Homo sapiens: one gene and its partner. The protein of the gene in region 1 purifies or fractionates together with the protein of each later gene. This does not show direct contact. Each region holds a gene or a part of one and is shown on either strand. Other genes may lie near its edges.

Region 1 (3,500 bases):
ATTAAACAGCCTTTAGAATGGGTAAAAGTAAAAAGATTGACAACACCAAATATTGGTGAGAGACTGGAACTCATATACTCTTGCTAAGAGTGTAAATGAGTACATCTGCTTCACCAGCATCTACTGAAGTTAGACACCTGCCTATGCAATGTCCAACAATTACACTTTTAGATAAATAACCAACAGAAATAAGAATATTCAGGTATTTTTGTTCTTAATATCCAAAAACTGGAAACAACCCAAATATCCATCAAGTATGGATAAACATATTCATATAATGGAAAACTGTATAGCAATAAAAGATAATGAATTACTGCTACGCACAATATGGATACATTTCTCAGGCATGCTCAAAGGAAACCAGATGCAGAAGAGTATATGATTCTATTTCTCAGAAATTCAAGAAGAGTTAAAATAAACCTATGGTAACACTAGTTAAAACAGTGATGGGGGCCAGGCATGGTGGCACATGCCTGTAATCCCAGCAGTTTGGGAGGCTGAGGTGGGTAGATCGCTTGAGCTCAGGAGTTTGAGAACAGCCTGGGCAAAAGGGTGAAACCCCGTCTGCATAAAAAAGTACAAAAATTAGCTGAGTGTGGTGGTGTGCACCTGCACTCCCAGCTACTCAGTAGGCTGAGGTGGGAAGATCACTTGAACCAGGCAGTTGAGGCTGCAGTGAGCCATGATGGCACCACTGCACTCCAGCCTGGGCAACAGAGCAAGACACTGTCTCAAATTAAAAAAAAAAAAAGTCACTGAACTATACACTAAAGATATGTGTACTGTATGGTACTTAAAATCAGAAATAATAATAATAACTAATGAAATATAGACTACCCAGAAATCTATATTGCTGAAATGATTTCTTCTAAGTTCATAATACACAGCATTAGTTTCACTACATGCACTTGCTGAGAAACCATGTAATGTTTTCCTGATCTAAAAAATTATTTTTGGGCCAGGCGCGGTGGCTGATGCCTGTAATCCCAGCACTAATGGGAGGCCGAGGTGGTTGGATCACTTGAGGTCAGGAGTTCGAGACCAGCCTGGTCAACATGGGGAAACCCGTCTCTATTAAAAATACAAAAAAAAAAAAATTAGCTGGGTGTAGTGGCAGGTGCCTATAATCCCAGCTACTCAGGAGGCTGAGACAGGAAAATCGCTCAAACCCAGGAGGCAGAGGTTGCAGTGAGCCAAGATCACACCATTGCACTCCATCCTAGGCAACGAGGGCAAAATTCCATCTCAAAAAAAAAAAAAAATTATTTTCACCTCTACACTTAAGCTTTTGATAACTTCAAATAATTTAAATAAACTAGTACTCAAGTTGACTACCAAAAATAAAGAATTTTTTAAATAAGTGATAAGAAAGTATCCTGTAGAAATTCATTTTCTAGTCAATTTTAAATTTAACAAAACACATATCTACATATACACAATGGAATACTATTCCGGAATGAAAAAGGAATGAACTCACGTCTTTTACAGTAACACAGAACTGGAGACCTTCATCTTCAGTGAAACAACTCAGATTAGAAGCTCACACCTATAATCCCAACACTTTGGGAGGCCAAGGCAGGATGACTGCTTGAGCCCAGGAGTTTGGGACCAGCCTGCACCACATGGTGAGACCCTGTCTCTAAAAATATTTATTTGAATTAGCTAGGTACAGTGACACCACCTGTGGTCTCAGCTGCTTGGGAGGCTGAGGTGGGAAAATCGCTTGAGCCCAGGAGGTCAAGGCTGCAGTGAGGCATGTGGAGAATCGCTTGAGCCCAGGAGGTCGAGGCTGCAGTGGGCCGTTTTTGCACCACTGCACTCCAGTCTGGACGACAGAGCGAAACCATTTCAAAAAGAAAAAGAAAAAAGAAAAAAAAAGAACTCAGAAAGTCAAATACCACATATTCTCACTATAAGTAGGGGCTAAATAATGTGTATACACATGGACATAGAGTGTGGAATAACAGTCATTGAAGACTTGGAAGGCTAGGAGCAGTGCAGTGAGGGATAAGAAATTACTTAATGGGTACAATGTACACTATTCAGGTGATGATTACACTAAAAGCCCAGATTTCACCACCACACAATATACCCATATAACAAAGCTGTACTTGTAACCCTTAAATTTATACAAATAAAAAAGTACATGTCATTTTAAAAGGAATGTCAGTTTCTTAAATTTTAATTTACAAATTTATATCCCAAAAATGTCTCACTGGGTTAAAAGTGCTTCCATCCTGTTTTGTAGTATGTTCCCCTATTTCCTTTCATTAATGCTACTGTGAATTCCCAAATATTTATGTTTTTTTCTTCTTGGCCAACTTTGTCTAATAAAAAAATTTACAATTTTTTTATAGCTGACTTGCTCCATCTTATACCAGGTTAGCTCTGGAGTGTTTAAATAAGCATATGATGTGCCTCGACTTGAGACTGTATGGTATAGTTACCATGCTCAAGAGTACATATTTTAAAGCTAGACAACCTAAATTTGTATCTCGGCTTACTAGTTGTGACTTCTCTGAGTCTCAGTTTCTCATCTGTAAAATGGCGGAGAATATCTGCCTTTTTAATCGTTCAGATTAAAGCATGATAGTCCATATTAAGGCATTTAGCATTATGACTAACACATAGTTAGTGCAAAAGAAATGGTAACTATAACATTTTATAGTCAAGTATCTCCCTTTAAAAGACTGTAGTATATTAGCATTAGCATATAGGAAAATCTCTCCAATTACTCTCATTCTAAATATATGAGTCAAAAAACTAAAAGCATAACTTTTCCCACTCATTCACTTATTTATTCCATAATTTTTTTTTTTTTTTTTTGAGACGGAGTCTTGCTCTGTCACCCACGCTGGAGTGCAGTGGCACGATCTCGGCTCACTGCAACCTCCACCTCCCAGGTTCAAGCGATTCTCCCGCTTCAGCCTCCCCAGTACCTGGGACTACAGGCAGGAAGCACCATGCCTGGCTAATTTTTTATGTTTAGTAGAGAGAGAGTTTCACCATATTGGCCAGGCTGGTCTCGAACTCCTGAGCTCAAGTGATCTGCCCACCTTGGCCTCCCAAAGTGCTGGGATTACAGGCATGGGCCACAGCACCCAGCCTATTTATTTGACATAATAGTAATTATCATTGCCTGGAATTATGCTAAGTGCTTTACACAAATTATTTTCCTTAATCCTTATATCATGAAATCAATAATGTATAATCTCCATCTTATAGATTAAGAAATTAAGATTTGAGGAATCCAAATAACTTGCCCAACGTTACCATAGTGATCCATCACCGGTCATATTCCAGAGATGGTACTCTAAACCAGTACACTCTAGGCATACTGGATGCTATGGGGAAATAAAATTAATGACAGTCCCTGTCACAGTGTTAATAGTATAGAAGTAGACATTAGACAACTCAGCAAGCTAGAATATATGATGGAATCTGATAATTATCATATAAGAGGCATAAAGACCAACAGAAGTGCAGAAACAGGCATAAAT
Region 2 (3,500 bases), on another chromosome or scaffold:
CGTCTGCTGCTTCACCTTCTGCGGTGTGTAGTTGGAGATGTCCAGGATCACGTTGGGCTCGCTGACGTGGCAGTCAAAACTGGGATTGTAGAGCTGACTAAAGGCCTCTGAGGCCCAGTCCAGGCCTCCATAGCCCTGCCGGAAAGGCCACTGAGAAGCCCCCGCAAACTGCCGACAGTTCTCGGGCGAGGGCTGGAAGGAGGAGGAGGAGGAGGAGGCGGCAGAGGCTGCAGAGGTGGCAGAGGCTGTGGTGCCCTTGGGTACCATGTAGCCACCGGGCGAGACTGTGCTGGCCCGGCTGTCACAGCGCAGGGGCGTGGGGGCTGAACCAGAGAAGGGGGCCCCCTCAGAGCTGCTGAAGAAGGAGGCCTTGCTTGGTGGCAGGCAGGGGCCCCCGGTAGGCGGTGGGGCATAGCCGGCGCTGTGGGCGCTGCTGGGTGAGGCAGGGAGGCTGTTGCCACTGCCATAGGCGAAGCTGCAGTCCTTGCTGTTAGCGCAGTCCTGGCCTGTAAAGGGCTTAGTTGGGGCGAATACGCTTTGTCCGGCCCCATAGCCGCCGTACTGGGGCAGGTAGGTGTTGGCAGGCGGGTGGGTGGTAGGTGAGCGGGCCATGGCTGAGGGCGGGGGCACCAGCTTGGGGAAGGTCTCGGCTGCCCGGCAGTCTGAAGCGGCTGGAGTTAGCCCATAGCTTGCTGCTCGTCCTGGTGGGAAGGTCTGGCGCGCGGACAGGACAGGCTGAAAGGAGGGGTCCGCCCCAGCCCCGCTGCTACCCACTGCCACTGGGCTGGCCTTGGCTCCCCGGCTAGGGAAGGTGGCCAGGCCCCGCTGGGCAGGCAGGGCACTGGTGGGTGGCCCTGCATAGGTGCCCGATGCCTTCCGGGACTCTGGGCGAGAGGCTGAGAGGGCAAAGTCCAAGAGATCGGAGGAGTCATCCGAATCGAGCAGCGAGCGAAAGTAGCCGGTGAAGAGGTTTTGGCGCTCCTGGCTGAGCTCGGTCTGGCCTGAGGGTGCACCCGTGCTGTAGTAGCTGCCACGGCCTGAGGCTCCACTCTCCAGCCCAGTGGAGGCAAAGGCCCGGGCCTCGGTCCCCTGAAACCCACAGTTTCGGCCAGCTTGTCCGCCTGGGTGCCCATGGTGAGGGGCCCAGCCACCACCCTTATCCCCGGCCCACTCAGCACCTGCCTCCCCAAAGCCTGGGCCACTGGGCACCTGCTCTGGGAACAGAGTCCCATTCTTCCGGGACCGTCTCTTGCGCTTTGGCTTCCCAGTCACAGCGTCTACCTCCCCCCGGCCCCGTTTGCGTGGGTGCCCCAACTCAGTAAGGCCCGGGCCCCCGACCCCAGCGGCTGCCACGGCCACCACCTTCTTTTTCTTGCCGATGCCCTCAAAGAAGTCACTGAAGGAGCATCGGGCTGACTTGGCCGCATGGCCCCCACCCCGGCCACCAAAACCGCCTGCTTTGCCCCCACGCCGCCGGAAGCCCTGCACACGATGCAGGAAGTGGGAGATGCTCTGGGTGTCGGGGGCCTGGTGCACCGACTCCGGCTCACTGGGTGTCCAGCAGCGGGGCGGTGAGCACCGTCCAGCGCACTGGCTCTGGCGGTTCAGGAAGGCCAGCTTGGCCAGGACGTCTGAGTACTCGGCCTTGCTGTCGTTGGCGTCTGCTGCATAGGATGGCTGGGGAGATGCCAGCTTCTGCTTCCGCCGCCGTCGTTTTTTTACCTCTGGCATGGCCATGGTGGCCGCTGCCACAGTGGCTGCCTCGGCCGCCACCACAGCTGGCTCCTTGGGCTTGCCGGGACCCAGCAGCAGGTTCTTAGGAGGGCGGCCGCGCTTACGTTTGAGAATAATGGGCATCTCACCGGGTGGGAAGACCACTACCACGTTCCGCCCATTGTTCTTCATCTTCAGCAGCGGGGTGGGCTCAGCCGACACGCGCAGGCCCAGCTCCTTGCCCTCCACGCTCAGGCTGCTGCTCAAGGAAGACACTTTGTATGTGGTCTTGTTCCGCCGCCCCAGCGATACGGGGATCTTGGCCATCTTCACCACCATGCGCCGCACGCCCCGGCACTTGCCTTTGCGGGTAGAGACCACTGGGGTCTGGGAAGATTCCGGCTTCAACTCTGGGACTGAGACCGGGCCTGGGCCTGGCAGGGCAGGGGGTGGAGGAGGCGGTGGTGGTGGGGGTTCGGCCAGGGCAGCCACCAGCCCCGTGGGCATAGGCAGGGGCAGTAGGCGGCCCTCGGGTCCGGCGTCTGCCTTGCGTCCCCGTCCGGCTTTCCGCCGGCGACACAGGATCTTTGGCCTATCAGTGCGCCGCAAGGCGTACTTGGGGTGACCCTCAGGCCCGGGGGGGCCGTGCGGTGAGCACAAGTCCAGGCGCAAGGGCTCGGCCAGTGGGCAGTGCCCCAGGGGCTGCTGGGGCTCCAGACGGCGACCTGGGACGTCAAGCAGCTTGGGCAGGGGGTCGAGTGCCTGGGGGTCAAGCAGCTGCGACTCCAAGGAGTCAGGCAGGGTGTCCAGGGCCTGGAGAGCCAGGCCCGGCAGCCCCAGAGGATCAGCAAGAGGTTGCAGGGGTGGCAGCTCCAGAGCTTCCCCGAGCGGCTCTAGTGCCTGCGGGTCCAGGAAGCGGGGCTGGGGGTCCAGGAGCTGAGGCTCCGGCTCGGGCGATGGTGGCTCGAGGGCCTGGGCCTCTAGCAGCTGGGCCTCTGGGCAAGTGAGGGAGGCCAGCTCACTAAGGATGTCGGCGTCAGCAAGTTCTGAGTAATCAGTGCTGTCTGGCTCAGGCTCTGGGGGCAGACCCGTGGCCGCAGCCGTGGCTCCGGGACTATGGCCTTGGCCAGGCTGGGGACTGTCCCTAGGCTCAGGCTCAGGCTCGTAGAGGGGATGGCTGGGCCGCTCCGACTTGGCGTGTGGGGTGGCCCGCTCCTCAGGGCTACGGATGCTGTTGGCCAAACTGGGTGAGGAGAAGAAGCTGTACTGTAGGTCGCCGGGTGGCGGTGCAGGCGGGCGGCTCAGTCGGAGCCCACCACAGTCCAGGTGTACACCACTGTGCTGCAGGTCCTGGGAGAGGCGTGTCAGGTCCTTCATGATGTCAATCAGCTGCACCACTGGTCGCAGGTTCACCCGCCCGTTGTCCCAGCAGCGTCGGGAGCTGCTGCCGTCTCCGACCGGTGTGGGGCAGCGGGCCTGTGAGACAGGACGGGCTGCCCGTGGGGGCAGCGGGTCGTCCCCCTTGGCAAGGACTGGTGGGCGCCGGGTGCTGGGGTCCCGGCGTGGGGGTGGGCGTGGGTTCTCGGAGAAGGCGTGGGTGGAGAAGGCCTTGTCAGGTGGGCTGGCAGGGGGCCGGGTGGGAAGCAGGGGCCGGGGGGTGGGGGGGCCGCCGGGGTAGTACTTGGGTTCCCGGAGGTAGTCAGGAGAGCTGCACACGGCACTGGAAGTCACCACCAGGCCCTGGGGCTTCACACGCATCCTGACCTTGTCCTCCGCAGGCCGCCGGG

Evidence for each region. The genes of interacting proteins can lie anywhere in the genome.
Region 2: the proteins of SENP7 (region 1) and AHDC1 purify together in Homo sapiens (affinity purification with mass spectrometry; one large-scale study listed by BioGRID and IntAct). This does not show direct contact.

Annotation. Positions count from the first base shown.
Region 1 is NC_000003.12:101,503,213-101,506,712, forward strand, and holds part of SENP7 (sentrin-specific protease 7), read right to left. Parts: intron 1-3,500. UniProt on the Homo sapiens protein: Protease that acts as a positive regulator of the cGAS-STING pathway by catalyzing desumoylation of CGAS. Desumoylation of CGAS promotes DNA-binding activity of CGAS, subsequent oligomerization and activation.
Region 2 is NC_000001.11:27,548,645-27,552,144, forward strand, and holds part of AHDC1 (transcription factor Gibbin), read right to left. Parts: 5' UTR 3,472-3,500; coding exon 1-3,471. UniProt on the Homo sapiens protein: Transcription factor required for the proper patterning of the epidermis, which plays a key role in early epithelial morphogenesis. Directly binds promoter and enhancer regions and acts by maintaining local enhancer-promoter chromatin architecture.